Linked DNA regions of Homo sapiens. The gene in region 4 interacts genetically with the main gene of each other region. Each region holds a gene or a part of one and is shown on either strand. Other genes may lie near its edges.

Region 1 (4,091 bases), on a different chromosome or scaffold from region 4:
ACCGTGCCCGGCCCTAGTGGAACATTTTAATTTGTTTCTGGTAGCATAGCTCTCTTGGCAATGGTCATTAAGAGGGCCAAATACCATTATTATGATCAATTAATTAAATGTGGTTAAAAGTCAGAAGTTAGAATAAGTATGTGTTCATGAATGCGTAAAATATTACACACTGAGAGAGTATTAAGCTTTTTAATTTTCCCCCAGTAACAGTGAGCAGATTGCTGAAATCTCTGAAGCAGGAATGTAACAAGAGTTTTGAGGGCTCTAAATTCTCTGCTGTTTCACCCTAAGGAATGGTTTGGCAGCATCCTCTATGCTAGGCACAGAACAACTCAGGAGGAATTGTACAAAGACCTTATGAACCACATTTGAAGCTAGTCTGTTCAGTTCCCATTCAAAATAAATACACAACTGTAATTGAATTTATGGTGATTTGGTCTGTATGCTAAAATTAAAAATCGCTTTTGGGGGATTTTCACATAGGGGTATATTTATAATTTTCTGTGTGCTTTGCAGTTAAAAATACATAGTGAAAGTTTTATTTTTGTAGTTCCTCTGTTGTACAGAGGAAATTTAAATTCTTAAAATTAGAATTTTCTAATTTTAAGCACTTTCATTTTTCCTTTAGAAGGTACTTTGGAGCACATAAAAGAAAATGCCATTAGAAATTGAACATAGAAAATGTTTATTAATCGAAGAAAATGTTTTCTTATTGTGCTATAATTTTTTTCAGTGGAACATATCATTTACTTATTCCATTATTCCACATCTTGTTCCAGAAAGGGTTTGTAATGACTTACAAAGATACGTGCGACATACTGTTGGTAACATAACAGATAAGTGGGTGAGGAATGCAGGACTGAGGGAAAATTAAGATGGAAACAGGAATGAGCTGTGTACACAGAGCACTTGGACTGAAGTCTTAAGTGCAGAGGGCCACAAATTTGGCTTTGCTTTTGAGTAGCCAATTAAGAGAGAAATATAATCAGTTACATGGGTCAGTGACCATACGACAAAAGAGATCATTTCTGCTTTGGATTCCCAAAGACTTTCCAGCATGCGTTTCAAAGGGCTGGGTGTCGAGTTTTACTTTGTGTGTTAGTAAAACTCCTTATTGGCTTTTTGTGTAAGACGGTGACATAACATCAAAACATTCCGTAAAAGCATTTCTCTTGCCTGCAAAATAATGTGATCCGAGTACTTAGATCTCTAGGCTGATTTAAGGATCTGTTTTAGATTATCTAGATGAGTAGGTGGATTGCACATTCTTCACCTACCTTCCATACTTTCTCAGTGGATCTTTTGTAATGAATTTATCAGCAGTGGGGTTTGAGTTTGTGCTTCCTCACAAGTTCCTTGAATGCATCTGTTTTCTGTTGTTGGTGAATCACGGAACCATATGTTTTAACAGGCATGGTTTATCGTGGGGGTATCACGATGGAACAGTCTGACAAGGGCACATATTTGTTTGTTTGTTTTTTGAGGAAAATCACTTTATTCTAATTAACTCAACAAAGAATAAAATCATAACGGCTAGTTCAAGGGTGCCACACAAACATCTACCCAGCCATCTTAATGAAATTCTACACAGTAAGAATTTCCTTTTCCATTGCAGTCCTGAAGCAGGGACGCTATGAGAGAGGAGAGGTTTACCTGATGATTACACTTTATACCTTCACTATCAATTGTATTTTTGTGCTAAATCACTTGGTTATGAGAGCTGATTTTCCATTTCTCCAATTCGAACTTTCTGATTAGACCAATCTGTTTGCAAGTCTGCACTGTTTCAGCACCTTATTGAAACCCTCACAGAGTTTTCTGTCACCCTGGTTCTGGGCACTCTCCAAAAACTGTTTTATGTCATAAGAGCAAGGCCGCTGCTGCTTTGCTGGCTGGGTTCCCTGAGGCTCTTGGTAGGTGATATCAGGCCTTCAGGCTCACCGTGACTTCCTCCACTGAAGCCCTGGTGGTGGCATGACCCAGTGTATGTCTGACAGGGGCACATATTTGAATGAAAGCCACCTCACCTCCATACAGAGATGGGCTGAGGGAATACCAAATATGAAGATGGGAGCAGATCCAGATCTACTCGTCTCAGATGAAATGTCCAGTAAGTTGTATTGCCTGTATTTTGCTCCAGCTGAACAGTTGCACTTTCAAGTAATAATAGTTCAAATTTATCAAATGCTAGCAGGAGCCATGCATTGTGTTAATGGAGAGAGACCATCCTTATTCACTCTTACTCAGTAAACAGTGGGTGAAACTGCCCTTGCCTAAATATAGTTATGTAATGCTGTGTTTCCTTAATTGTATATCCATAAAGCTTTTGACATTGTTTTCTAAATGTGTTCCTCAAAAAGGAGTTGGGCTAGTGACCAAAGTTTTGAATAGAATATTGTAAGAAAGCAAATACAAAGTGTAAAAACAAAAAACAGAACTTTGCGAGGTGTTGTTCACCTGTAGTCCCAACTACTTGGGAGGCTGAGGCAGGAGGATTGCCGGAGGTCAGGTATTAGAGGCTGCAGTGCACTATGATTGTGTCTGTAAATAGCCACTACACTCTAGCCTGGGCAACAAAGCAAGACTCCATCTCTAAAAACAAACAAACAGGCCAGGCACGGTGGCTCACACCTGTAATCTCAGCACTTTGGGAGGCCAAGGCGGGCGGATCACGAGGTCAGGAGATAGAGACCATCCTGGCTAACACAGTTAAACCCCGTCTCTACTAAAAATATTTTAAAAAATTAGCTGGGTGTGATGGTGGGCGCCTGTAGTCCCAGCTACTCGGGAGGCTGAAGCAGGAGAATCGCTGGAACCTGGGAGGCGGAGCTTGCAGTGAGCCGAGATCGCACCACTGCACTCCAGCGTGGGCGACAGAGCGAGACTCCATCTCAAAAACAAACAAACAAAACTACAGAATAATGAAATAGAATGTCCAAAATTTATCATAACTGGTGTCTCACGAGATAATACGTTTGGGTCCTGTTTAGCAAGTTGGATTATATTTTTATTTGTGTAAATTTATTGGCCGTTGCAGTTGGGGTTGTATTGAGAATGTAGATTTTGTCTGATGAGAGTGTAGATTTTATTTGTAGTGAGTGCATGTGGATTTTTATTTGTCTAGGGTTTTAAAAGTTGTATAGTCATGAATGGACACTTTTTAATACCATCTATGAGAAATTCAATGGCAAAGTGTTTTCATACCCATATGCTAACTGCTGATGCTTTTTATAAAACATTGTTAAGGTGTTACTTGCCCCAGGAAATACAATGTTTTATGACAGAGACAGTACTGAAATTCAGTATTTAAGTTCTTTAAATACCAGCTATGTTGAGTAGATATTACTTTCTCCCAAGAGCCTATTTTTGGTTTATGACATATTAGGGAACAAATTGCAGACACAGTTTTTTCATTACCTGTAAGAGCACTTATAGGATGTAAGCTATTTCCTTAAAGAGGAATTTTTGCCTTTTTAATACTTCTGTCTAGTAACTCAATGCATTAAAAGATACATATTTTTCTAGTGCTATAAATATATTGGTACATTTAAATATAATATACACACATATAATGGTGCTTGAGAAATAAGTTGAGATTATTTTAAGGTTAAGGTTCTTAGATTCTGACAGAAAAACTGATCAGCCAGTTGGACTACAGGTCCAACCAGTTCCAGCCCCAAACATGAGCAATAGTGATTATGGTAGTGATTCTGCCATTTACGTCAGTGAAATGCAAAGATTTCAGTTTCATTCTTCAGCAGACGCTTTATGTGTATTTGGAGAAGAATCTGAGTACTAGAAAATACTCTTCTCCTGTGTTTGTTCTGCTGTTAAATACACGGTTTGAATTCTTAATTTTAGAAATACTTTTCAGATCTAGAATTTCAGTTTGACACAAATTCCAATTCACAGTTGAAATTCTTAATCTTTTTATGTTTTCCCTCTTTTTTTCTTTTTTTTTTTTTTGAGACGGAGTCTCTCACATTGTCGCCTAGGCGGGAGTGCAGTGGTGTGATCTTGGCTCACTGCAACCTCCACCTCCCAGGTTCAAGCAATTCTCCTGCCTCAGCCTCCTGAGTAGCTGGAATTAC
Region 2 (4,720 bases), on a different chromosome or scaffold from region 4:
AACAACTGCTTCGTATTCAAAGGCACACATTCAATTTGGTAGATCAGCTGGACGCACTGCATTATACTGCAGGAGATAAGGGTTAAGTGACCTGGGGATATTGTTCTCCAGATGTCTAAAAGGTCCATTTTTTTATTGGAATTATCTCTACTTTAAAAAAAAAAAAAAAAGGAATTATATCTACTTTTGATAAATACCTAGCTTACCACACAATTAATACCTTCGCCCATATAAGATTCTACTTGAAGCTTCGTTTTTGAAATTTTAGGATTGTAGCTATTATAAAAACAAAATTTAAGAACACACAACATGTACAATGGGTCAAGAATACATGCCTTAGATTCTGATGAACAGGACAAGAAGGTTAAGAAAATACTATAACATACTCTAAGTTTGGGGGTACATTTTAGAGATTTTTAAGTGAGAAATCCAATAAATCTTTAAGCATTTAGCTTTCCATTATTGCAGCGCATGAAAAGACTTTTTTAAACTAATTTGTAATACACAATATATTCACTCCACAAATAACTATGTACATATATATGCCCACATCAATTTCCTACTCTTTTAATTAAAAATTTATGTTTCTTTTGGTCATAAAAATCTGGTTTTGGGTGTTTTAAAAGTTCAAACAGCTATTAAGCTATACTTTGCTTTGGCACTAGCTCCCCCTCCAGACCAATGTACTAATATAACAGCATTTTTAAAAATAATAAGTTAACAGTTTTTTCCAATCCACTGGCAAATTTTAAGATTCACCACTTTTAAGGACACTCCAATTGCGTAAAAATAACTGGTAAGAATTTGCAACAAAACAATGCAGGATGTAATCAGAATTAGTTTTGTTTTGTTTTTTTCGATTCCATACATCTTAAACAGAACTGATTTGTAGGAAAACAACTTCAGGTGACTTTTTAAATTCAAAAATATCCTCAAAATATAACCTATATAAGGCCGTACTTTATGGAAATTATTTTGAATCACTATCCTATTACACAAGACACTCTTCAAGTTAACTCACAACTTGACCAAAGATACATTTTTGCATCTGTTTCTGCAATCTATGCAAGTTTCATTCCAGCTGTTCAGCTCTTGAATTCAAATAGAATTCTCAATTTATAAGGCAGCAAAAAGAAAATCCATGTCTTGGAACTACCTTTGTACGTGTCTTATAGCCTATTCATCTCTAACTCCCTGCATTTTTTACACACTAAACCTGTGAAATCACAATTACAAATGCTTGAATTCCCACCTTTTCAATACTACTGTAGTATTTACAAATCAAGTAATTAAGATTTTCTATACACATACCAGATTTCACAAGGACAGCAAGGTACAGGGCCTTATTATTTGGCATAGGGTTTTAAGATGTTTTTACAGTTATTTTAAAGAGCAGAGACTACAACTCCATTATTTCTCATATATCTGATATACTGTAGTGCTTAAATAATAATTTCTCTCCTAAAATACTTTCTATATGATGCACCTATTTAAAGAATTAGTCATAAAACATAGAATGTAAATTTAATCAAGAAAATAAACATGCACCTAACCGCCGGAATAACAAGAAAAAAAAAATCTATAATGAAACCTGCCTACAGTTTTCATAGAGGCAAGCCAGTTAAGTCAGTTACTTGAGATGCGTTTAACTCTAAACTGACACAAAACTTGTGTTGAATTTGTTCCGCAAAACCTTGAAATTTGGGGTTATGTACTACAGAATTTGGCTTTTCTGGGTCCACCTTCCTGAGTGGGTTTAAATAAACTGTGAATAATTAAAACATAGGAAGGAAAAAAACACCACCTGTCCGTGCCTTTAACCAAGGCCTCAATCTATATATTATATGGCAAAATGCTAAAATAAAAGCTCATCCGGGACAAACCCTAAGCATGACACTGCCACTTAAGAAATACACTGCGTCTCTGAAGATTGCAATCCCCACTGTGAAGAAAGAACAGGTGCTGCACCCGACAACCCACTCAATCCTGCAGGACAAACCTCCTAGAACTGATAAATATGGACTCATTTAACCTTCCCAAATAAGTTGATACTCAAAAGCCGCCAGCTCGTCATTTGCACATCAAAAGGGAGTACAGCTGCACTCAAGCCTTTAACTGCCCTGCATCAGTCCCTCGCGGATCTTTGTGAGGGTCCACTCCCTGCTTTCTAGCCCGAGCAGCACTCAGAAAGAGCCCATAACGCACGGGCATCTTCCTCCCCACAAACCGCGACTCCAGGGACCGAGCTGCTGACGAAGGGAAGGTAGGTGTGGAGGGGAAACGACGGACACCTCCCACCCCCGCCCCCAACCCTTCTCCTTCCCTAGGCTTTGGCCCCTGCCCTAGGCAAGGATGCGCGACGCCGAGGGCAGCAGCGGCGCAGCTCCGCGTCCCGGCTGGAGAGGCGGGCGCCCCTCACCCTCTGCCCGCGCCCCCGGGGCTGCGCCAAGGCATCCGCCAGAGCGTCCCGGGGGCTCCCTCCCCACTTTTCCGAGAGCCGCTGGTTAACCGGCAGCAGTTGCAGCAACAGGCCCGGGTGAACGAGCAGGGACAGCCGCGGAGCCTCCTCAGATCCCGCGCGCAGCCCAGCCCAAGACCCCGAGGCGCGCGGGGCCCGGCTCCCAAAACGCCCCCTTACCCCAGGCGGGAGCAGAGGCGGTCTCCGCCGCTCCCCGTCGCAGCTGCCAAAGCCACAGCCCTCAGCCGCAGCTGCCCCACGATGGGGGAGTGGGAAGGGTGGCTGAGTGGAGGATGCTACTCCCGACCGAACGGAGAGGAAGAAACGGAAACAGGAACCGCCGCCGCCGCTTAACGGAGCCTTCGGCGCCACTGACTGAGGCAGAGCGCGAGGCGGCGCGAGCCGGGCAGTCGCTGACAGCGCGAGACCGAGAGCGAGCTGGGTCCAGGGCGCGCGACCCTGAGCAGTGCCGGCCCCATTCCGCGGGGAGACGAAGGGACGGGTCGGCTGGGGCCAGGCGGCGGGGGTGGGATGGGGAGGGGGCCTGGAGAGGAGGGAACCGGCTGCTCGGGTCGGCCGGAGATAACGCGCGCACGCGCCGGAGCGGCTCTGACAACGAGCGCAGGCGGGGAAGCCTCGGCCAGCGCCGGCGTGCGCGCGCGAATGGGGGAGCGCGCCCCTCGGCGTTCCTGGCTTCTGGGAGAGGGCGCGCATGCGCCGGCCGCTGCCACCTACGGCGACCCTGGCATGTGCCAGGGATTCTCCCCGCCCCCTTCCTCGCTGCGCCGGTGGAGAGCGTAGCAGCAGCATCCACCGCCTAGCAGAGCCGCGGGCCACAGCGGGACGGCACAGTTCCAGCAGGGCAGCGGCTGCGCACGCCGGCTCCGGCTCGCACACAGGCGTAGGCCGCCCTCTACCGCCTGAAGGCCGGAGGCTGAGCGGGGCGCGAGCGGATCCTGGATCCCGGGAGGAGACTCGCCTCCAGAGAATGCTGTGCTCCCTACAGCGCCGGGAATGGACCGGCCCGTGCCAGCTCAGTCGGCGGCCCTAGGGGGCACCCGCACTAGAGGTTTTGAAGCTGGCTCCTTGCTACTTTTAGGGGTGCGCGCTGCTGCTGCTCAGCCCCTGCAGCCCGCATTTGGCCGCTTGACTGCTGCTTCCAGCGCGATCCTACAATGGCATCGCTCCCCCAGGAGACTCAGCGAAGCCCTACTTTATCTTGTAAGAGCTGTTTCCACATTCACTCGAAGAGAAAGACCCCCCCCACGAGGGCCTGAGTTCGATGCCCGGCCTCTCCCGACCCGCGGCTGCGACAGCCCCTCTGAGGCGGAAGTTTATTTAGTACGGGAAAGAGAACAGCACGGGGAGAGGGGAGAGGCTTTGCCCTAGGATGCGTCCTACCCGCTCGGACTCGGAAAATTCCCGGCGCCCGCGATGCAGAGCAGTGGACCGAAGGGCTGCCCCAGAGCAGCCCAGACCGCCAGCTGAGCGGGAGGACCGGAGCGCGCCGCCCCAGCACACAAAGTAGTCGCGGGACGAGGGGTGCCGCCGAGGCCAATCAGAGCTGCGCGCCGCGTGAGTGGAGTGCGAGCCGGCCAATCAGAGGGCCGGAAGATGAGCTTCCCGTTCCAAACTCTTCCCTGTAGCCTTGGGACCCAGATCCCAAGCCTGGGGCGCTTTACGGTGGGAGAGCGAAATGGTGCCCTTAAGACAAGAATCATTTCTCTAGGCTTGGGCATTTTAAAGTACATACCGGGGATACTTATCCCAAAGCAAGTAGCGGCGGCCTTTTAGATGTTAAATATTAAAAGATCACAGAAAGGAGATTTAAGAGGCAGTGGCCTGTCAAGGTTGCAATCTGCCTAATATTCATAAATTCACATATTTATTGAGACCTTCTTATGTACCAGGAACTCTATCACAGATACACAAATAAGGTACTGCTGATTCAAAAGAAAATCCCTTGTCCTCAAGCAGCTCAGGTTGTGAGGGAGGCTTTCCTAGACCTTGAGACTCGTATTTATTGTCAGCTCTTTAAACAAAAAGCACTCTATGAAGTGCTGTACTTTACAGTCGTTTTTATGATTATCTCCCTGTGAGAAAAGAAAATTGAAAGGAAAGTAGAGTGACTTGTCCAAGATCACACAGAAGATGTACTAGCAGAGCCAGAATTATGTTCTAGCTCAGTTTGGGTGTCATCATTCAATAAAATAATTCAATAACAATTTGTAAATGCATGGATGCTCTCTCCCATGAGATTTC
Region 3 (4,091 bases), on a different chromosome or scaffold from region 4:
AGCAAGGCACCTTCTTCACAAGGCCGCGGGAAGGAGAAGTGCTAAATGAAGAGGGGAAGGGCCCCTTAAAAACCATCAGATCTTGCAAGAACTCACCATGTAGTACACCTGTAAACCCAGCTACTCGGGAGGCTGAAGCATGAGAACCACTTGAACCCTGGAGGCACAGGGTTGCAGTGAGCCGATATCATGCCACTGCACTCCAACCTGGGTACAGAGTGAGACTCTGTCTCAAAAACATAAGAATAGTGTCAGGCACGGTGGCTCAAGCCTGTAACCCCAGCACTTTGGGAGGTCAAGGTGGGCGGATCACTTGAGCTCAGGAGTTTGAGACCAGCCTGGGCAACATGGCAAAACTACATCTCCACAAAAACAATATAAAAATTAGCAGGACTTGGTAGCTCACATCTGTAGTCCAGATTCTTGGGGGACTGAGGTAGGAGGATGACTTCAGTCCAGGAAATGGAGGTTACTGTAAGCTGAGATTGCACCACTGTAGTCTAGTCTGGGTGAAAGGGCCATACCTGTCTCAAAAAGAAAGAAAGAGAGAGAGACAGAGAAAGAAACAGAAGAGTACATTGTAACTGTTGTAAGGTTGGATATTATTTTGTGAAACTGTTTTGTTTTGTTTTGTTTTTTTGAGACAGAGTCTCCCTCTGTTGCCAGGCTGGAAGGCAGTGGCGTGATCTCGGCTCACTGCAACCTCCGACTCCCTGGTTCAAGCGATTCTCCTGCCTCAGCCTCCTGAGTAGCTGGGATTACAGGCACGCGCCACCGTGCCCAGCTAGTTTTTGTATTTTTAGTAGAGACGGGGATTCACCATGTTGGCCTTGATCTCCTGGCCTCGTGATCTGCCCCCCTTGGCCTCCCAAAGTACTACGATTACAGGCATGAGCCATTGCACCTGGCCTGTTTTGTTTTGTTTTTAAGAGACAGGATCTCTAGGCTGGACACAGTGGCTCATACTTGTAATCCACCACTTTGGGAGGTCAAGGTGGGAGGATCACCTGAGCCCCAGATTTCAAGACCAGCCTAGGCAACATAGGGAGACCACATTTCTACAAAAAAATTTTCAAATTAGCTGGTTATGGTGGTACTTGCCTGTGGTTTCCCAGTTACTTGGGAGGCTGAGGTAGGAGGATTGCTTGAGCCCGGGAGGTCGAGGGTGCAGTGAGCCATAATTGCACCACTGCTGTACTCCAGCCTGGGTGAAAGATGAGACCTTGTCTCAATTTTTAAAGAAGGCTTAAACTGCTTAATCTGATTATAAATGATAAATGTCTAGTATGTTATTCTCTATTCATGAAATATAGCAAAGATAAGCTTTTTGGCCTTTTGAAGCATTTATGTTTTAAATGACAAATATGTTACTGTAAACTGGGATTATCAGCTGGCCAGGTATCATTTACTGCAGTTCAGAGTCTCCCAACCTCCATATTTCTAGAACTGAATTTAGACTGAAGGATGTGCCTCTTAAACTGCTCTGCCCTTTTGGTTTCTTGCTGGCAATTGTCTGCTGATATTTTATAAAGCTAAAAATTTTCTACTCAATTTGTTCCTTATTTTACATTTTTATCTCAGCCTAGGTATAAACTAGATGAATTTGATTGCAATTATTTTCATTGTTACTGCTCTTCATTTGCCTATTTTCATCAGAAAAAAACAGTGTATTTTCTGGTGAGATTGGCATGAATTTCTCAGATAAAGGAATATTTGGGGATGGTGTCCCTTTGGGAATATGATTGCTTTCTTGCATGGTGATTTGCTTCCACTTCCCAGGTGTTGAGAATAATAGGCAGTCAGAAGGTCTGCATGCCAAAGGCAGAAGACATTTGGGAATTTTTTCATCATGAACTTTAAGTTGAAGGAGTTAATGATTGGCTGGATTACAATATAAAAAGTGGATGTCTTTACAGTAAAGTAAGTAGAGCTTGAAATACAAAGAATGGAAACTCCTACATGAAAATGTTTTTAGGGGAAAAACATATTTTCTCTTTATGGTTTATTCTGCTCTAGGAAAACACCACCAAGCAAGTGAAACACATAATGTGATTGCATCAGACAAAGCAGCAGAAAAATCAGTTGTCCATGAACATGAGCACAGCCACGACCACACACAGCTGCATGCCTATATTGGTGTTTCCCTCGTTCTGGGCTTCGTTTTCATGTTGCTGGTGGACCAGATTGGTAACTCCCATGTGCATTCTACTGACGGTGAGTGGCTCCAAGGCTTTCTGGGCAGTGCAATACATTTGCAGTTGAGAAAGTTACAAACGATCAAATATTTCAGTCTGTATCAGTGGCCATATTTAGTGCTAAAACTCTTGTCTTCCTTGGGTTCTAGTGAACATTTAACTAAGTGGGGAGAGCTAGTGAGTTGTGGCATGTGGCGCAAAGAAGTGTTTATTGGTTTATTACTTTGCTTGTCTTAAAGTTGTCACATTTGGTTGAGAGTCTAGGGCAGAAGTTCTTAACTTAGTTTTTTGCTGTGGAGCCCTTAGGCAGTCTAAAGACTGTGGACCTTTTATTGGAATATTGTTTTTAAATGTATAAAACATAGTACATAAGATCAAAGAGAAAACCACCTTTGTTGAAATACAGTTACTAAAACATCAGAACAAATTTGTGATATAGTAATGTATGTCTTTATCAGTGCATTAAATAATGAGATAATACATTTAAATCCTAAACAAGTTAGAGTTGAATTTTATTTTCTAGGACATTAGTATGCTAGCTATTACATAATAATATGCTTGGCTTAAGAACATTAAATTATGAGGTAGTCTGTAACAAGGCAACATGTATGTCAAGTTAAACATCTAGTTGATTTTGGGTTTTTGTTTTGATGGTTATTGGTGTAGAAAATCTTGATTTACAAAGGTATTTTCTTACAAATGTACCTAAACACATTTGTAGCTTGCTTTTTAAGGAATCATAAGCTTCTCTAAAGGACAACTAGAATTCCCCAAGACTTTTCAAATTTGACTCCAGTCATAGTAACTGTTTTGTTTTAAGATCAATGAATTTATCTTTGGCTAGGTCAACATTTTTCATACGATTTATATTAATAAAAAAGGATTCTGATACATGATACACTTCGATCCTGTGGTGATAGAAATAAATTTGAGAGTTATAAAACTTCTCCAGGGATTGATGTGTAGACATATTTTTTCAGATATGTCAGCAGGGAATTTTGCAGATAGGAAATATTGGAAAGCAGCATAAGTATCTTGGTCCCCAATGGGAGAGCCTTGTGACTATCACTGTTTGGTGGCTGAGTGACTGTTAGATGCAGAGCTACTTGATAGTTGCCCAGCTCCATCACATGAGCATCTGCAGACAGGAAAGCTGTAATCATGCAGTATGGCAGCAGTTCTATAAGTCCTTAATTTAAAGTAGTGATGAGTGAAAGCGATAATTTAAAGATAATCTACAACTGTAAAATAACCTGATTAGTCTGATTTCTACTGGCAGTAAAGATAGTGCTGATATTACTTGTGGTTTATTGTCTGCATTCATAATTAAAGGAAATGAGGGGGCAGTCACCATGACTCACCTGTAATCCTAGCACTTTGGGAGGCCAAGATGGGCGGATCCTTTTGAGTTCAGGAGTTTGAGACCAGCCTGGGCAACATGGCAAAACTCCATCTCTACAAAAAATACAATAATTAGCTGAGCATAGTGGTACGCACCTGGAGTCCCTGCTACTGGGGGACTGAGGCGGGAGGAACGCTTGAGCCCAGGAGGTTGAGGCTGCAGTGAGCTGAGATCACGCCACTGCACTCCAGCCTGGGTGACAAAGTGAGACCCTGTCTCAAAAATAATAATGATAATAAAAATAAAGGAAATGTGGCCAAGCGTGGTGGCTCATGCCTGTAATCCCAGCACTTTGAGAGGCTGAGGGGGAAGGTTCACTTGAGACCAGGAGTTCAAGATCAGCCTGGGAGACATGGTGAGACCCCATCTCTACGAAAAAAAAATAAATTACCCAAGCATGATGAGGCATGCCTGTAGTCGCAGCTACTCAGGAGGCTTAGGTGGTAAGATCACTTGAGCCCAGAAGGTTGAGACTACATTGAGCCACGATCACA
Region 4 (4,091 bases):
CCCGGGCTCAAGTGATCCTTCCACCTCAGCCTCCTGAGTAGCTAGGACTACAAGTGCATGCCACCACACCTGGCTAATTTTTAAAATATTCTGTAGAAACGGGGTCTTGGTATGTTGCCCATGCTATTCTTGAACTCCTGGCCTCAAACAATCCTCCTGCCTTGGCCTCCTTAGGTGCTGGGATTACAGGCATGCCACTTGGGCCCAGCCAGGGCCAACTTTTAGCATCCATAGGTTCTATGGGTCACACTGCAGAACTTGAGTATCTGTGGATTTTGGTATCCTCAGGAGGTTCTGTGACCAGTGCCTTGTGGATACCAAGGGACAACTAAATAGCATATACATAAACCAGTAACACAGTCGTTTGTTATCAGTATTATGTATTGTACATAATGAGTATATGTGCAAGACTTTATGCTACTGGCAGTGCAGTAGGTTTGTTTTATACCAACATCACTGCAAACACATTGTAAAGCATTGCATTACAGTGGTTACAAAGTCACTGGGTAATATGAATTTTTCAGCTCCATTATAATCTTATGGGACCACTGCTGTATATGTAATCTGTCGTTGACCAAAGTTTTACTGTGTAGCACATGACTATGCTTAGAAGGAAGGATCAACTATGTAAATAATGAAGGAGGAGGCCGGGTGCATTGGCTCACGCCTGTAATCCTAGCACTTTGAGAGGCTGAGGCGGGCGGATCGCTTGAGGCCAGGAGTTTGAGACCAGCTGGGCCAACATAGTGAAACCCTGTCTCTACTAAAAATACAAAAAATTTAGCCAGGTGTGGTGGCACATGTCTGTAATCTCAGCTACTCAGGAGGCTGAGGTTCACTTGAACCCAGGAGGCGGGGGCTGCAGTGAGCTGAGATTGCACCACTGCACTCCATCCTGGGTGACAGAGCGAGACTGTCTCAAAAAAAAAAAAAAAAAAAAGATGAGGAAGAAGGGCAATTTTGGTAGTAGGTACAATATGTATGAATGCCTTGGGTGGAAAAGATCTTGGTTTGTGAATAATTGATAGGCAGCCCCGGGTGAATCTTGAGATGCAAAGACATATTCCTGTGGGAGAAGAAAACTAATATATCATATTTGACTTGTAGCTTTTTCAGCCTAGTAATTATGTTAGTTTCCCAGTTTTGTTGGTGTTTGAAGAACTATTTATAAAGTCCTTTTGTATTTATCTATGTGATAAATACAGAGCTTTGAAAATGTATACTACAGGCAGCTGTCTTTGAACTTTTTCTTGTTGTTTCAAAATTGGGCAGACAGCTACAGGTTGAATATCCCTTATTTGAAATGCTTGGGACCAGAAGGGTTTTAGGATTTTAGGCTTATTTGCATATACAAATGAGATGTCTTGGGGATGAGACCCAAGTTTAAACACAAAATTCATTTATGTTTCATACACACGTTGTATGCTTAGTCTAAAGCTTATTTTTTCGTTCGGGACACTGAATAAACTGTGTTGTGCCACCTGCGTTTTGACTACAACCTGTTACGAGGTCAGATGTGGAATTTTTCATGTGTGGTTGATGCTTAGAAAGTTTCAGATTTTGAAGCATTTCAGATTTTGGACTTTCAGGTTAGGGATGCTCAACTTGTATTAGTATCTGAGGACACTTAACAACCAAGTTGAACCATCTGTAGGAATGCATCATTTCATCACTGATAGATGACTTCAGTTAGACTTATAAAAAAGGCCTTAAGGCTGGGTGTGGTGGCTCACGCCTGTAATCCCAGCACTTTGGGAGGCCGAGGTGGGTGGATCACCTGAGGTCGGGAGTTCAAAACCAGCGTGACCAACACGGTAAAACCCCATCTCTACTAAAAATGCAAAAATTAGCCAGGCGTGGTGGCACGCACCTGTAATCCCAGCTACTCAGGAGGCTGAGGCAGGAGAATTGCTTGAACCCAGGAGGCAGAGGTTGCAGTGAGCGGAGATGGTACCATTGCATGGCAGCCTGGGCAACAGAGTGAGACTCTGTCTCAAAAAAAAAAAAAAGCCTTAATGGCAAAATATACTGTGGACAAGAGGCTGGATACTGTCGATACTGGCAGTGAATGGCCTGATTTCATTCACCAGTTGCTAAATCTGAAAATATTCTTGGCCTTCCCCACTGTATGTGACCTCGGTTCATAATTGGGATCCAAAGGTGACAAATATCTAGAATAACTTTGTCTCAGAAATAGTATCACTTAACTGGGGTTTACCATAGTAGAGCCAGGTATTACCTATCTTTCTTTACAACTTTAAGGAAGTAATTTTACTTCTGAGTTCCAGATTTTTCACTTGTTAAACAGTAGTCTTCCCTTCCTATTCTATGGCATTATTAGGAGGAGAAAATGAGATATGAATGCTTTTGAGAAAGTTAAGCAGTATAGCAAGATGAAGATATTTTCAAGCCCTTATCATCCATATGCTCTACTACCTACCAAAGATCCAGTTCATACTTTTGTTTATAGTAATTGGAACTTTTAAAACTCTAGGGTATAGTTAGTGGCTTGCAGCAAGAGCCCCTCAGTTCTCTTATTTTTTTCTCGTTGGTCTTAGGACCAGAGTCTGCAGGATTATAATGACAACGCTGAACTTTCCAGTTCATCCTTGCCTGAATTGTTAGTGGAGGCTCATTTTATGTAGTGTAATCAACTTTATAAATTCTGGACTTGAACATGAATGTATGTACCTGTACTTAATTCACATTTATCTGTGGTTTTAATGTATATTAGTGGCCTTGTTGGTTTTGGTGTTTTAAGTCTGTAGTTAACCTTTCTTTATTATTCATTGTATATGTGAGATAATATAATCAAGGATTCCTTTTGCACAAATAATTTAGATGGCTATGGGTATTGTGATGTAAAGATTTTACCAGTTGTCATATTGGCTTTTAAAAAAATCAGATATATTTTTGAAATCTATTACTGTTTCTAAATGTTTGGTATTTACCATTTTGAAAATACTTGATATATTATATTTAACAGTGTCATTTACAATTTTTTTTTGAGACAGAATCTCACTTTCTTGCCCAGGCGGGAATGCAGTGGTGCGATCTCGGCTCACTGCAACCTCTGCCTCCTGGGTTCAAGCAATTCTCATGCTTCAGCCACCCAAGTAGCTGGGATTACAGCTGTGTGCCAACGTGCCTGGCTAATTTTTGTGTTTTTTGGTAGAGATGGTGTTTCACCACGTTGGCCAGGCTGGTATGGAACTCCTGACCTCAAGTGATCTGCCTGCCTCAGCCTACCAGAGTGGAGTGCTGGGATTACAGGCATGAACCACCATGCCCAACCTCATTTACAATTTTTAAAAAAATCTTAAGATCTGTATTTTTTATAGTTTATAAAAGTTTTTTTGTGATCACAAAAATACATGCTTTTGGTAGAAACACAAACATACAAAGATGTTCTATAAAACTGACTTTTTATCGTACATTTTAAGATATTTAAAAATATTTTCTGTAATTTCATGAAGAGTACTAAAGCCACAGTCACTGACATTGTAAACACCTCTGTTCATTCTCTAACCTGTTAGGTGGTTAAGCTATTTTTAATTCTAGGGGGCTCAGGCTGAACTTGAGGTTGGGGAGGAGAATTTGCCTCTGCTTTTAGTTGCAATTTTCAAGTGAGGTGAAATTAAGTAAAATTTGTAAGAGCTTTTTTGGCTTTTTAATTCTAGATAAATACATAAATAAATTTGGGTCTCTGTAATAGAATATGTGCTTTTATAGGATAGTGATATTTGCTTGATAAATGGAGGATTTACTTACTAGTGTGTGTATTGATAAATACAGACTTTGATTAGTTTATTCAAGAGAGATTTTTAAGTCCCTACTTTATGCCATACCTTGAAAAGTTTTAGAGTTCCAGTGATGAGCAAAATGTTTACTTTCAATTGTAATTCAAAATGCAAATTCCACTTGTTTACATGGAGTTATTAGATTGTAAATTTCTAGAAAATTGTTTGATTCTGCCTTTAAAAAAAAAGAAAGATGGAGCCTCTCAAGAGTGCAGTGGTACAATCACAGCTCTCGTACTTCACTGTATCACGGTAGCGTTTGAACTCCTGGGCCCAGGATATCTTCACACT
Region 5 (4,091 bases), on a different chromosome or scaffold from region 4:
TCGCTTGAGGAGGAGGTTGCAGTGAGCTGAGGTCATGTCACTGCACACTCCACCCTGGGCGACAGAGTGAGACTCCATCTCAAAAACAAAAACCAGACATGGATTGAGCAGTTTCTATTTGCCAGGCACTGTTCCAGAACCTGGGAGACACAGAAGAGCAGACAGCCCTGCCCTCAATGACTGCACAGTATGTGTGTATACACACACACCCACCTGTGTAAGCAACTGTGATACAGGTTTAGAACAGTTAGAAAGAGGGATTGATAGATGGCTATGAATGCTACGGGTATCAGGCTGGCTGAGCCGGGGAATGGATGTCCCTTAGGCCTTCAGGGCCTCTTAGGGGAGGTGATGCTTGAGCTGAGTGTTGAAGGATACATAGAAGTGAGGGAAACTGGAGAGACAGGCATATGTGAAGTCTGAAGGTGTGAAAAAATCTTCAGATTTGGCAGGAGTTAGTGGTTGGTGGAATGGGACAGGGATGGAGCTCATCCCTCTCTCCTGTCCCTTCACCTTTGTCTCCTCTCCCCTGTGTCCTCTGCCCCCAGTAGATCACTTTGACTAGAGTGTGTGCAGTGGAGTGGCCTCAGTGATCTATGGGCCACATATGCCATACTCAGGAGGAGTTTGTAGTTCATCTTGTGGGGTGTTGGGGAGCCTTTGAAGGATTTTCAACAAGGCAGTGAAATTAGACGTGTGTTTCAGAAAGACTGGAGTTTTCTCTAGTCGCACTGGAATAAGGTTGACTGTAGCAAGAGGATTCAGTTGGGAGGCATAGTGAGAGGCTGGCAGTGGCTATGGCAGTCTAGCCTGAGTCAGCCACATTGGGTGTGAGGAGCAGGGAGCAGATGTGCGAGATGTGTGGACTATACAGTTGTAGAGACTCACAGAAGACCAGAGTGTCAGCTCTGTCTGTCAGAACAGAGGCCCATTTTTGTTTAGTTTTAGACCCAAGACTGAGCTCTGTACCTGGCACAGAATGCATCCTGAGTAAATATTTCTTGAATAAATATTTGAATGATTAAATGAAGGGTTTGAGAGAGAGGGAGGAGTCTCAGACTTGAGGTTTCTGGTTTGAATGTCTGAATGAATGTTGGCAAACATCTGTGGAGATTGTGAAATACAGAAAAGGGAGCATGGAGGTGGGTAGTTAAGATAAACTCCGTTTTAGGCTTACTAAGCATGAGGTATATGTGACTGAATCTGCCAAAAACATTGAGGAAGTAGTTGGAAAACAAGTTCTGGAACACACGAGAATGGTCTGGGCTTACGATGGAGTTGGGAGTGTCACAAATATACAAGTGCCTGTTAAAGTTGTGGCTTTAGATGACATGTGTCCAAATGAAATGAGAAAGTGCCCCTGAGGTGAGGGTAGCAGTATATGGAGAGCACTTCATTTGTAGTTGATGCTAATCAGAAAAAAAGTTTCTCGGACCAGGTTGACCTCAAGTTTTTCTAAAGGATGAAAGATACCACTGAGTTTTTTTTTTTTTCATTCTTTTAATTGTTGGGAATGAACTAAGAAATACAAATAAGTCCAAGTGAGGGTCACTGACCTGAAAAGAGGGGTGGGAGCTGGAAATATATCAGAGAAGTGGAATGATTCAAGTAGACACAAGGCCTTGTGCAGCAAGGGATATTTTATTTTTAGTTACAAAGAAACTACCAAAAGGAGTATTTTGAATGGTGGAGTATTTTAGTTAAACTGATGTGTGTAAATAATGAGAGCTCAAGAAGCTCAAGCCCTAGTCTCAGCAGAGGTCAAGAAGCTTGGAGCCCGGAGCTTGGAATAAGGCTGCCTGTTGGCAGGTCTCCAAGGGCAGGGACCGAAGTGTGCCTGTGTGCTGTGAGTGAGTCCAGCCCTCTGATGGATTCCATGCCTCCAGCAAGGAGGTAAGAGGGAATGAGGCAGGAGCAGGGAAGATTAGGAGGAGGAATATGAAAGCTACAAGCTAGGGAACATAAAAGTTTCGTAAGGAATAATAGTAACGTGGACTTTTGAGGTGATATACAGGGAAGATGCTTTTATTTTACAACTTGGTAGTAGAACAGAAGCTAAATTATTTGGAGTCGTTAATACCCACAGTGAACATCAAGTTGGGCAAAGGGATGGGAGATCTTCCCTTGGTTAGAAAGTGACCTTCTCAGCAATTTGGTATTCTGTAATGATAAGTCTGTGATAGTGCATGATTTTAGGGAATGGCAATTAATGGTTGACCTACTTGGGAATACAAATACCACGTGTTCATTTGTACAATAAGTGCTTTGTAGGTGAGATTCCTGACACACCCCTTCTTGTCAACAGAGTTATCTTTAGTCTCTTGTTATCACTATAGAAATAAAAATATATGTATTTGGGTAGTCGAGTAACAGTTGAATTATTTCTTACCAAGAAAAAAAGATAAAAAATAATATGTAAGGCTGGGCACGGGGGCTCATGCCCGTAATCCCAGCACTTTGGGAGGCCAAGGCAGGCAGATCACTTGAGGTCAGGAGTTCAAGACCAGCCTGGTCAACATGGTGAAACTTCATCTCTACTAAAAAAAAAAAATACAAAAATTAGCTGGGTGTGGTGGTGGGTGCCTGTAATCCCAGCTACTCGGGAGGCTGAGGCAGGAGAATGGCGTGAACCTGGGAGGCGGAGCTTGCAGTGAGCTGAGATTGCGCCACTGCACTCCAGCCTGGGCGACAGAGCGAGACGCCGTCTCAAAAAAAAATAAAAAAAAAAAAATAAATAAAAATAGTAAGTATAGATTTTGTTTCTATTTTTAAAAACATATACAAATATATATTTACAAAATAAATAACTATTTGTATTTATTTTAGAAGTATGGAAGGGTATGTAGCAAAATGTTAACAGTGTTAACAGCGTGATTGTCTCTGGCAGGTGGGCTTATGAATGAATTATAATTGTTTCCTCTTATGTTTTCTTATTCATGTTTTCTAGTTTTTCATTTCTAAGAAGCAAGTTTTCAAAGAAAAAAAGAAAAAACTGTTTTTTTCTGTAATGCAGAAATAGCAAGTTTGAAGAACAAATAAGGAAGTATAATTGCTAGCCCTTCCTTATAGAATCGTATCTGCGGAGTGATAGAGTACCCTTTAAACCACATGCTCTCCTGTTCCATTTCAGAGGATTCCACAGATGTTGGTGAGGAGGACAGCTTCCTTGGTCAGACTTCTATTCACACATCTGCCCCACAGACATTTAGTTACTTCTCTCAGGTATCAAGCAGCAGTGATCCTTTTGGGAATATTGGACAGTCACCATTAACAACTGCAGCAACCTCAGTTGGACAATCAGGATTCCCCAAGCCCCTGACTGCTCTCCCTTTTACAACTGGATCCCAAGATGTCTCGAATGCATTTTCACCATCCATTTCGAAGGCTCAACCTGGTGCTCCACCTTCCTCACTGATGGGAATAAATTCTTATCTGCCTTCTCAGCCAAGTAGTCTCCCTCCTTCATATTTTGGGAACCAACCCCAAGGAATTCCCCAACCAGGATACAATCCATATCGCCATACCCCTGGCAGCAGCAGGGCTAATCCTTACATTGCACCACCCCAGCTGCAGCAGTGCCAAACACCAGGCCCTCCTGCTCATCCTCCACCTTCTGGACCCCCTGTTCAGATGTACCAGATGCCTCCAGGATCTTTGCCACCGGTATGGAGACATGATTTTGTGTCCTACTTATTCACTCTGTGTCTTCTTTCTCACCTGAACCTATGTTTTAAAAAACATTTCACATCTTATAATCAATATGGTGACAAATTAGTTTCAGAGGGTATTCTTTGTAAGCTACATGAAGTAAACATTGTCTTAAAGATAGCTTATTGGATGGCTCATATTTTAGTGTATATTACCTGTTTATTGAAGCAGTAACTGATTTTAATGAGTTAGCTACGTGTCAGTATTTCCAGATTTTAGAGTACGGTAAAAATAAGTGTTGTCTAGAGACATAGGAGAATTGAAGCGGTTATTGTCTTAACAGACTGCTAGTTTCTCATCTTTCAATTACACTAGTCAATCAAAACACTCAATTACAGGGACTAAAATTGATTACTTCAGTAATTTCTTTATGGAGTTTGGAT
Region 6 (4,091 bases), on a different chromosome or scaffold from region 4:
ATGTGAAAGTATAAGGAACAGGGAAGAAAAACATTAGTGCATCATTAGTTCTTGAAAGTATATATGATAACATTTAGATCCATATTTAAAATATGGATGTTAAAGATCACAATTATTTATGAATTTGAGAGTTGTCAGATCTGTTAGTGGGCAGTATCAGTAGGTAAAAATAATGAAATTATTTCTTCTAACTCTTCAGAATCAGACAGTGATTCTATTGTGAAATGATGACAAGAATCCATACTCATGGTTATCCTAGCAGTGGGAGAACCCTCATCAAGTAATTCTCTAATGATTTTTGGGGAGAAGGGATTCAACTTATTTTTTTCTGCTGTTGTTAGGATGTGAAAAAGTCTGTTTTATGGCTCTTACAGCTTTGGGCCTGATTAGCAAGCCTAACTTGCAGATATTGGAAGGCTCCATTCTTGAGCCTATGCACCATATGCTGGAATTTATTATCAGTGACTTAATTTGGGGCAACTTGAGGACTTCTGTGCTCTAAGAGAAAAAAATAGGAGTCTAGACTTCTTGTTCTCTTCCAAACTGGAATTCAAAAGCCATGGTATTGGGGTCTCCATACTGTTTAATTGCCTGGATTATGAGGAGAAGACAGTGTCACAAAACTGGTTCTTAGCCTGGTTAAACCATATTAGCAAAGTTAAACCATATTAATGGTTTTAGTTTTTACTACAGAGAATGACGTGAAATCATCAAATATTCTATCTATATATTTGTTTGGTGGAATCCATATAATTTTTTTTTTTTTTTTGAGACGGAGTCTTGCCCTGTCACCCAGGCTGGAGTGCAATGGGAGTACGATGGCGCGATCTCAGTTCACTGCAAACCTCAACCTCCCGGGTTCAAGCGATTCTCCTCCCTCAGCCTCCTGAGTAGCTGGGATTACAGGCACACGCCACCACAGCCGGCTATTTTTTGTATCTTTAGTAGAGCCGGAGTTTCACCATGTTGGCCAGGCTGGTCTCAAGCTCCTGACCTCGTGATCTGCCCGCCTTGGCCCCCATAAAGTTCTGGGATTACAGGCATGAGCCACCGCACCTGGCAAATCTACATAATTTTAAGTATAAAATGATTAATTTTCTTCCAGACAGATTAGAATTTTTTTTTTTTTTAATGAGATGAAGTCTTGCTCTATCGCCCAGGCTGAGTGGCATGATCTTGGCTCACTGCAACCTCTGGCTCCCAGGTTCAAGCTATTCTCCTGCCTCAGCTTCCCTAGTAGCTGGGACTACAGGCATGCGCCACCACACCCAGCTAATTTTTTTTTGTATTTTGAGTAGAGATGGGTTTTCACCATGTTGGATTAGAATTTACAGTGATTTCATTGTCCTCAATTTAGTTGCCTCAAATTTTTAAATATTACATTTTTTGTTAATTCATATGAAAACAATATTTTAAGAATCATTCATTTACTCTTTGTTTCTGCTAAAGTTTTAAGACTATTATTACTTAATATATTAATATCGATACTTCCAAGTCCTTTATATCTATTGAGTTAAACATGTTGACTACTAGCGTTTTTAGGCAGGAAGTGATTTTATAGGGCATCTAGTTCAGATCCCTTATTTTGGTAAGAGAAAGAATTTTCAGGTTTGTAGATTACATTCACATTTACCAATAGCACTTTGGTAAAATACCACATTGGGATTGGTTTTTGTTTTTTGTTTTTCCTTTTCTCCCTGCCTGTTGGTAGGCAGGGTATCCCTACCATATCTTATTCTTTGCAATACTTCTACTTTAGGTCCTGTTTCCCTCTGATTTGGCAAGAGAGACAATCTTGCAATAATAAATTAACATTCTAGCTCTGAGGAGTTCAACTAAGAAATTTTCTCATCACTAAGAGTAACTGGATTACTGCAGAATGACTACAGAAGTAATATTACATTATCGACCATGTGAGAGTGATCCCACACAACTGCCAAAAATTGCAGAAAAAGCAATTCAAGACTTTCCTACTCGTCCGCTATCAAGATTTATACCTTGGTTTCCATATGATGGGTCCAAGCTTCCACTCAGACCTAAAAGATCACCACCTGTGATTTCTGAAGAGGCAGCTGAAGATGTGAAACAGTACTTAACCATTTCAGAACATGATGCTAAGTCACACAGTTATGATTGCACAGTAGATCTATTGGAGTTTCAACCTAGCTTGAAAAAGCAGCATTTAACCTGGTCACACACACTGAAGGAACAGACTAATTCTGGAAATCTGGGTAAACAATCAGAAAAGGGAAAACAGCACAAGAGGAGATCTTGGAGTATTTCCCTTCCCAGCAATAATTGTACTAAAAACGTTTCTCCTTTGTCTAAAAAATTGCAAGATAGTTTAAAGGCACTAAATTTACACTCACTTTATAGAGCAAGATGGACAATAGAACACACTATTTGTAACAGCCAAACTCTGGAAGACATTTGGACAAAACTCAATCAAATTATTAGGCACAATGAACTTCCATCTTGTAATGCTACAATTCAGAGGCATTTAGGCCAAATATGGGTGTTCTGTGATATTATGTATTGTGAATATGTGGGAAGTCTTCTTAAAGGAAGATTAGCTCTTACTGGAAAAATTAATTTATTTGTGCATAAATATGGTGTTATTTTTAGTATGTAATGAATTCCACTGATTGTCAAAAAGAATATTCTGAATGAAATGAATATGGATTGAAATAGATAAAATAATTTTTACAGGTTTTAAAATTTTTAATGACTTTTTAGAATTCCTAGGCTTGTCAATTAAGTCAAGAAATTGCTGAGTTCTGCTTATTGGCAGCCTTCTTTTAAATGTGATAAATTATTGTTTACACTGAATTTGAAGGTAAAAATGTTCTGTTCCTTTTGTTACAAACTGTGATTGAATTAGTCATGAATTAAGTTGTATAGTTTGGATTTTGGTTAATCTCTAAAATCTAATTTTACTGTATTTTTTTCCTTACCTCAAGTGTAATTTTTTAAAAAATAAAACTCGAAACAATTCTCTTTGGAGTGCTATTTATGTGGCATGAATGTAGTTCAAAGTGGGAGACTAGTCTAGATTTATAATGATGTTTCCAAAGATATGTAATAACAATTGATAGGCTGTTTTCAAACAACGATACAAAATGTATACTTTGCCTAAAACGATAATGTATCCTGTTTTGAAGGAAAGTATCAAATGTTGAATGATTGTTTATTTCTTCTAATACAGATAATTCAGTATTAATGATAGTTAGTGCTAATTATTACTTGGCTGATGATTGGAGTCATTGTAGGTTCCCCATAAGCATAATCTTGTAATTGGTTTTACACATCACCTCATAAAAATGCTCAAAGGGATTAAAACAGTAAAAGTTTTGTAGAAGCATGTATGTTTGTTTAACATATTTAAATGCCTACTTTGCACTAGGTGCTAGGATATACTAGGGAAGGAGACAGACATGGACCTTGCCCTCACACAGCTTACATGTCATTACTACTATTAAACACACCAGCTCCCTAAGAAAAATAAGACTGCACTTAACTAGGAATATAGACATGTTTACCTTGAAGCTCAGTGCCTGTCATGGTAGGAGCTTGATAATGCATGGTAAACATTCCCTTCAGAGGGATTCTTCATAGCCTGAGATGGCTGAGGTTGCTTAAAATGGAAGCCCACTAATTTTTTTTTCTTTCTAACTTTTATTTTAGGTTCAAGGGGTACATGTGCAGATTTGTGATATGGGTAAATTGTGTGCCACAGGGGTTTGGTGTACAAATAGTTTTGTCACCCATGTAATCAGGATAATACCCAATAGGTAGTTTTTTAGTCCTCACCCCCTGCCACCTTCTACCCTCAAATAGGCCTCAGTGTCTATTGTTCTGTTTTTTGTGTCCATGTATACTCATTGTTTATCTCTCACTTATGAGAATATGTGGTATTTGATTTTCTGTTCCTGCATAAATTGGCTTAGGATAATGGCCTCCAGTTGCATCTACGTTGCTGCAAAGGCCATAATCTGAAAATATGAAGAAAAAAGTTGCTTTTAATACCAAGTTGGGATCACTTTATTTTTAATGGAGGATCATTTTTTACCCACCATCTCATCCCCTGCTAA
Region 7 (4,091 bases), on a different chromosome or scaffold from region 4:
TTTCCAAGACAGTATTCTTATTCTGGGCCGGGTGCTGTGGCTCATGCCTGTAATCCTAGCACTTTGTGAGGCCGAGGCAGGCAGATCACCTGAGGTCAGGAGTTCAAGACCAGGCTGGCCAATGTGGTGAATGAAGCCCCGTCTCTACTAAAAATACAAAAATGAGCTGGGTGTGGTGGTGGGTGCCTGTAATTCCAGCTACTCAGGAGGCTGAGGCAGGAGAATCGCTTGAACCCGGGAGGCAGAGGTTGCAGTGAGACAAGATCGTGTCACTGCACTGCAGCCTGGGCGATGGAGCAAGACTCTTTCTCAAAAAAAGAAAGAAAAAAAAAAAGGACAGTATTCTGTTTTCCATTATCTATATTCTTGTCTGCTGGTAGATTTTGAAATCTTTTTCTTCAGAGTACAATTTTATGATTTCTCAGTTTCCCACTAGTTTCCTAGGATCATTTAACTTTTTGTCTTTAAATTCTTTTCTACCAGGAATTTTTAGTGATCCAATTATCTGAAAGGAGAGAAAAAAGTTAAAATGGGGTTTAGACTATTAATCATATTTTAAAAAATGTTCTTGGTCTCTGAAACAGAAGTACTTAAATTCGTCTTTCTAATAAAAAAATTATGACGCAGGTTTGTAAGTCATGGCATAAAGCAAACATGTACTATGGTATAACTGCTGCCCAAAGAAGTGACGATGTGAGATGATTATGCAAAATGTAGGACATTTCTAGTTTGAATCACAGCTGCCTAAAGAGAACAGTGACAATGATCATGAGGGTGTCACATTGTCACAATGATGATGAGGCATCATTCTAAGAACTTCATAAGTATTAATTCATTTTTCCTCACAGTTCTGTTAGGAAGTTACTGTTATCTCCATTTTACAGTGAGCAAATTAAGGTAGAGAGAAATCAAGTAACTTGCCCAAAGTAAGGGTCAGTAAGGAGGACAGACAGAACATGACTTTGTCTGACTCCAGAAATCACACTCTTAACCCCTATGCTTTGTCAGCTTTCCAGTGACATTTGTACTAGGCTCTTGGGCATGCTTTCATGTCCAATTTGTAAATCTTTCAGAATAAGAAGTGTGTACTGAAGAAAACAATTACATGAATGCTTTATAATTTTTTTTACCCTCTTGTTTTTTTTAAAAACATTCCATGATCTTAGTACTTTATGATTTAAAGTCTCCATTCTGAAAAGACAAGAGCAAGTTAACTCTAAAATTGTTCTGTGGCATACTTAAATCATTCATTAAGTACCCATTATAAAAAATAAGCATTGCCTCCTGGCCCACTAAACGAGAAGCTGCTAGGAATAAAAGATTCTGCAAAAATCTTACCTGGTGTTTGGTAATAGTTTTCCCAGAAGAAAATGGCTTTTGAAACAAAACCATAAAAAATGCAGTCCTGTAAATATTGAAACATTAATATATTAATATTAATCCATATTAAACACAAGATACAGTTTTAAGTAAAGACACTTATTTTAAACAAATATGCCAGAACTTGAAGTGTTATCCTCTGAATAAATCATACTGGAGAATTAATTATACTTATTTTAGTAAAACTCCTATTGCAATATTTTGATAACTTTTTTTTTTTTTTTTTTGAGATGGAGTCTTGCTCTGTCACCAGGCTGGAGTGCAGTGGCACGATCTTGGCTCACTGCAACCTCTGCCTCCCGGGTTCAAGCAATTCTCCTGCCTCAGCCTCCTGAGTAGCAGGGATTACAGGTGTGCGCCACCACGCCCAGCCAATTTTTCGTATTTTTAGTAGAGATGGTGTTTCAACACGTTGGCCAGGCTGGTCTCGAACTCCTGACTTCAGGTGATCCGCCTGCCTCGGCCTCCCAAACTGCTGGGAAAACAGGCATGAGCTATCACACCTGGCCGAGAACTCTTATTTTCTAACTGTCTTCAGAACCAGCTAACAAGCCACAAAAATAAAGGAGTCACAATTTTTTTTATATCTTAAAATATCAAAGAAGAGAATTCCTATTTTCTCTAAAATTCAGTAATAAATCTTGAAATAGTATAATGAAAATGAAGAAATTACTAATTATATATCCCTACCTTTCACATTGCCAAAATAGTTATATAAAAATGCACACAACTTGGCCAGGCACAGTGGCTCAAGCTTGTAATCCCAGCACTTTGGGTGGCCGAGGTGGGCGGATCACCTGAGGTCAGGAGTTGGAGACCAGCCTGGCCAACATGGCAAAACCCCGTGTCTACTAAAAAAAATACAAAAATTAGCTGGCCATGGTGGGACACACCTGTAATCCTAGCTACTCAGGAGGCTGAGACAGAATTGCTTGAACCCTGGAGGCAGAGGCTGCAGTGAGTTGAGATTGAGCCACTGCACTCCAGCCTGCGCAACCTAGCCAGACTGTCTCAAAAAAAAAAAAAAAAAAAAAAAGCACGTCACTGGTGCTTAATATTTCCTAGTCAATAATCTCTTTCCCAACTTACCAAAATTATACTTCGAAGAGTGTTGTTTTTGTTTTTTTTTTTAAATGGAGTCTCGCTCTGTTGCCCAGGCTGGAGTGCAGTGGCATGATCTCAGCTCACTGCAACCGCTGCCTCCCAGGTTCAAGCAATCCTCCTGCCTCAGCACCCCTTGTAGCTGGGATTACAGGCACATGCCACCACGCTTGGCTAATTTTTGTATCTTTAGTAGAGACAGGCTTTCGACATGTTGGCCAGGCTGGTCTCCAACTCCTGACCTCAGGCGATCCACCTGCCTCCGCCTCCCAAAGTGCTGGGATTACAGGCATGAGCCACCGTGCCCAGCTGACTCCCAAGAGTCTTTAACAGGTTTTTATTAACACAGAGGGTGGTCACTATCAATCTCAAGGTCCAAGAAATCTTTATTTAGAATTTCTTATATGTAGGCCAGGCGTGGTGGCTCATGCCTGTAATCCCAGCACTTTGGGAGGCTGAGGCGGGCAGATCACAAGGTCAAGAGATTGAGACCATCCTGGCCAACATGGTGAAACCCTGTCTCTATTAAAAATACAAAAATTAGCTGGGCATGGTGGTGAGCGCCTGTAGTCCCAGCTACTCGGGAGGCTGAGGCAGGAGAATCGCTTGAACATAGGAGGCAGTGATCTTGCAGTGAGCCAAGATCACGCCACTGCACTCCAGCCTGGTGACAGAGTGAGACTGTGTCTCAAAAAAGAAAAAAAAAAAGCATTTCGTATAAGTAGAATAAATTAATGTTCACACTACATGAGGACTCTGTACTAAGAAAGGATTATGCAGTGAATAATAATAATAATAAATAGCCCAAAAACTAAATTTGCAAAAATCTCATCAAAGTTTGTGTTTAGGCAAGTGATTAGAGCACAACAATCCGTTTTCTTTTCAGTCTCTTTGTACCTCTAATCTTAAGTATACTCCCAGTTAAAAAAGTTTATCAAATACTTGTCAGGAGGAACAAACAAAATATTGTATGTAAAGTTTCTTAAAGATACTCTGTTAAAACAGGATTTTCAAAGAAATAAAAAATATCAAGAAAAAACCCCCCCCCACACTCACCCAAGTTTTAATATAAAAATGAACTGAACAATGTGAACAGCTTTTAGGAGATCATATGATTCGAAAAGTCCCACAGCCTTCAAAAATTTAGTGAAACATAGTAACACAATATATTTTGTTAATCTGAAAAATAAAAGCAGAAACAATTTTTAGTATCACTGAAATTACAAGCAGCTCATCAATCTGGTTTTTTAAACAAGAGGTCATTACAGAAACCACAGAAATATACATAAACACAAAATGAAACAAAACAGAGTCCCCAAACAACTCACCATCCACGTGATAACTACTGTTGACTTTTTTTTTTTTTTTTTTTTAACTCATAGAGACGGGGTCTCAATGTGTTGCCCAGGCTGGTCTCGAACTCCTTTGGTCAAGCGATCCTCCAGCCTTGGTCTCCCAAAGTGCTAGGATTACAGGTGTGAGCCACCGCGCCCTACTGTTAACATTTTGAGGCCAGGTGCAGTAGCTTGAGACCAGCCTCCGCAACGTGGCAAAAGCCTATCTCTACAAAAAATACAAAGAATTAGCCAGGCATTATGGTGCGTGGTAGC

Evidence for each region.
Region 1: changes in MTF2 (region 4) and RABGEF1 together harm fitness more than expected from each alone (negative genetic interaction), as found in Homo sapiens cells (one large-scale study listed by BioGRID).
Region 2: changes in MTF2 (region 4) and FUT8 together harm fitness more than expected from each alone (negative genetic interaction), as found in Homo sapiens cells (one large-scale study listed by BioGRID).
Region 3: changes in MTF2 (region 4) and SLC39A9 together harm fitness less than expected from each alone (positive genetic interaction), as found in Homo sapiens cells (one large-scale study listed by BioGRID).
Region 5: changes in MTF2 (region 4) and SEC23IP together harm fitness more than expected from each alone (negative genetic interaction), as found in Homo sapiens cells (one large-scale study listed by BioGRID).
Region 6: changes in MTF2 (region 4) and TRAPPC13 together harm fitness more than expected from each alone (negative genetic interaction), as found in Homo sapiens cells (one large-scale study listed by BioGRID).
Region 7: changes in MTF2 (region 4) and SLC30A5 together harm fitness less than expected from each alone (positive genetic interaction), as found in Homo sapiens cells (one large-scale study listed by BioGRID).

What each region holds. Positions count from the first base shown.
Region 1 is NC_000007.14:66,747,081-66,751,171, forward strand, and holds part of RABGEF1 (rab5 GDP/GTP exchange factor), read left to right. Parts: intron 1-4,091. UniProt on the Homo sapiens protein: Rab effector protein acting as linker between gamma-adaptin, RAB4A or RAB5A. Involved in endocytic membrane fusion and membrane trafficking of recycling endosomes. Stimulates nucleotide exchange on RAB5A. Can act as a ubiquitin ligase.
Region 2 is NC_000014.9:65,411,133-65,415,852, reverse strand, and holds the start of FUT8 (alpha-(1,6)-fucosyltransferase), read right to left. Parts: upstream 3,124-4,720; 5' UTR 2,639-3,123; intron 1-2,638. UniProt on the Homo sapiens protein: Catalyzes the addition of fucose in alpha 1-6 linkage to the first GlcNAc residue, next to the peptide chains in N-glycans.
Region 3 is NC_000014.9:69,440,053-69,444,143, forward strand, and holds part of SLC39A9 (zinc transporter ZIP9), read left to right. Parts: intron 1-1,779; exon of another isoform or gene 1,780-1,920; intron 1,921-2,016; coding exon 2,017-2,214; intron 2,215-4,091. UniProt on the Homo sapiens protein: Transports zinc ions across cell and organelle membranes into the cytoplasm and regulates intracellular zinc homeostasis. Participates in the zinc ions efflux out of the secretory compartments.
Region 4 is NC_000001.11:93,085,577-93,089,667, forward strand, and holds part of MTF2 (metal-response element-binding transcription factor 2), read left to right. Parts: intron 1-4,091. UniProt on the Homo sapiens protein: Polycomb group (PcG) protein that specifically binds histone H3 trimethylated at 'Lys-36' (H3K36me3) and recruits the PRC2 complex, thus enhancing PRC2 H3K27me3 methylation activity.
Region 5 is NC_000010.11:119,895,297-119,899,387, forward strand, and holds part of SEC23IP (SEC23-interacting protein), read left to right. Parts: intron 1-3,130; coding exon 3,131-3,663; intron 3,664-4,091. UniProt on the Homo sapiens protein: Plays a role in the organization of endoplasmic reticulum exit sites. Specifically binds to phosphatidylinositol 3-phosphate (PI(3)P), phosphatidylinositol 4-phosphate (PI(4)P) and phosphatidylinositol 5-phosphate (PI(5)P).
Region 6 is NC_000005.10:65,627,709-65,631,799, forward strand, and holds part of TRAPPC13 (trafficking protein particle complex subunit 13), read left to right. Parts: intron 1-1,759; exon of another isoform or gene 1,760-1,879; coding exon of another isoform or gene 1,880-2,632; exon of another isoform or gene 2,633-3,220; intron 3,221-4,091. Other genes in the region: SHLD3 (shieldin complex subunit 3), read left to right, coding at 1,880-2,632.
Region 7 is NC_000005.10:69,100,376-69,104,466, reverse strand, and holds part of SLC30A5 (proton-coupled zinc antiporter SLC30A5), read right to left. Parts: intron 3,661-4,091; coding exon 3,538-3,660; intron 1,406-3,537; coding exon 1,339-1,405; intron 506-1,338; coding exon of another isoform or gene 422-505; exon of another isoform or gene 1-421. UniProt on the Homo sapiens protein: Together with SLC30A6 forms a functional proton-coupled zinc ion antiporter mediating zinc entry into the lumen of organelles along the secretory pathway.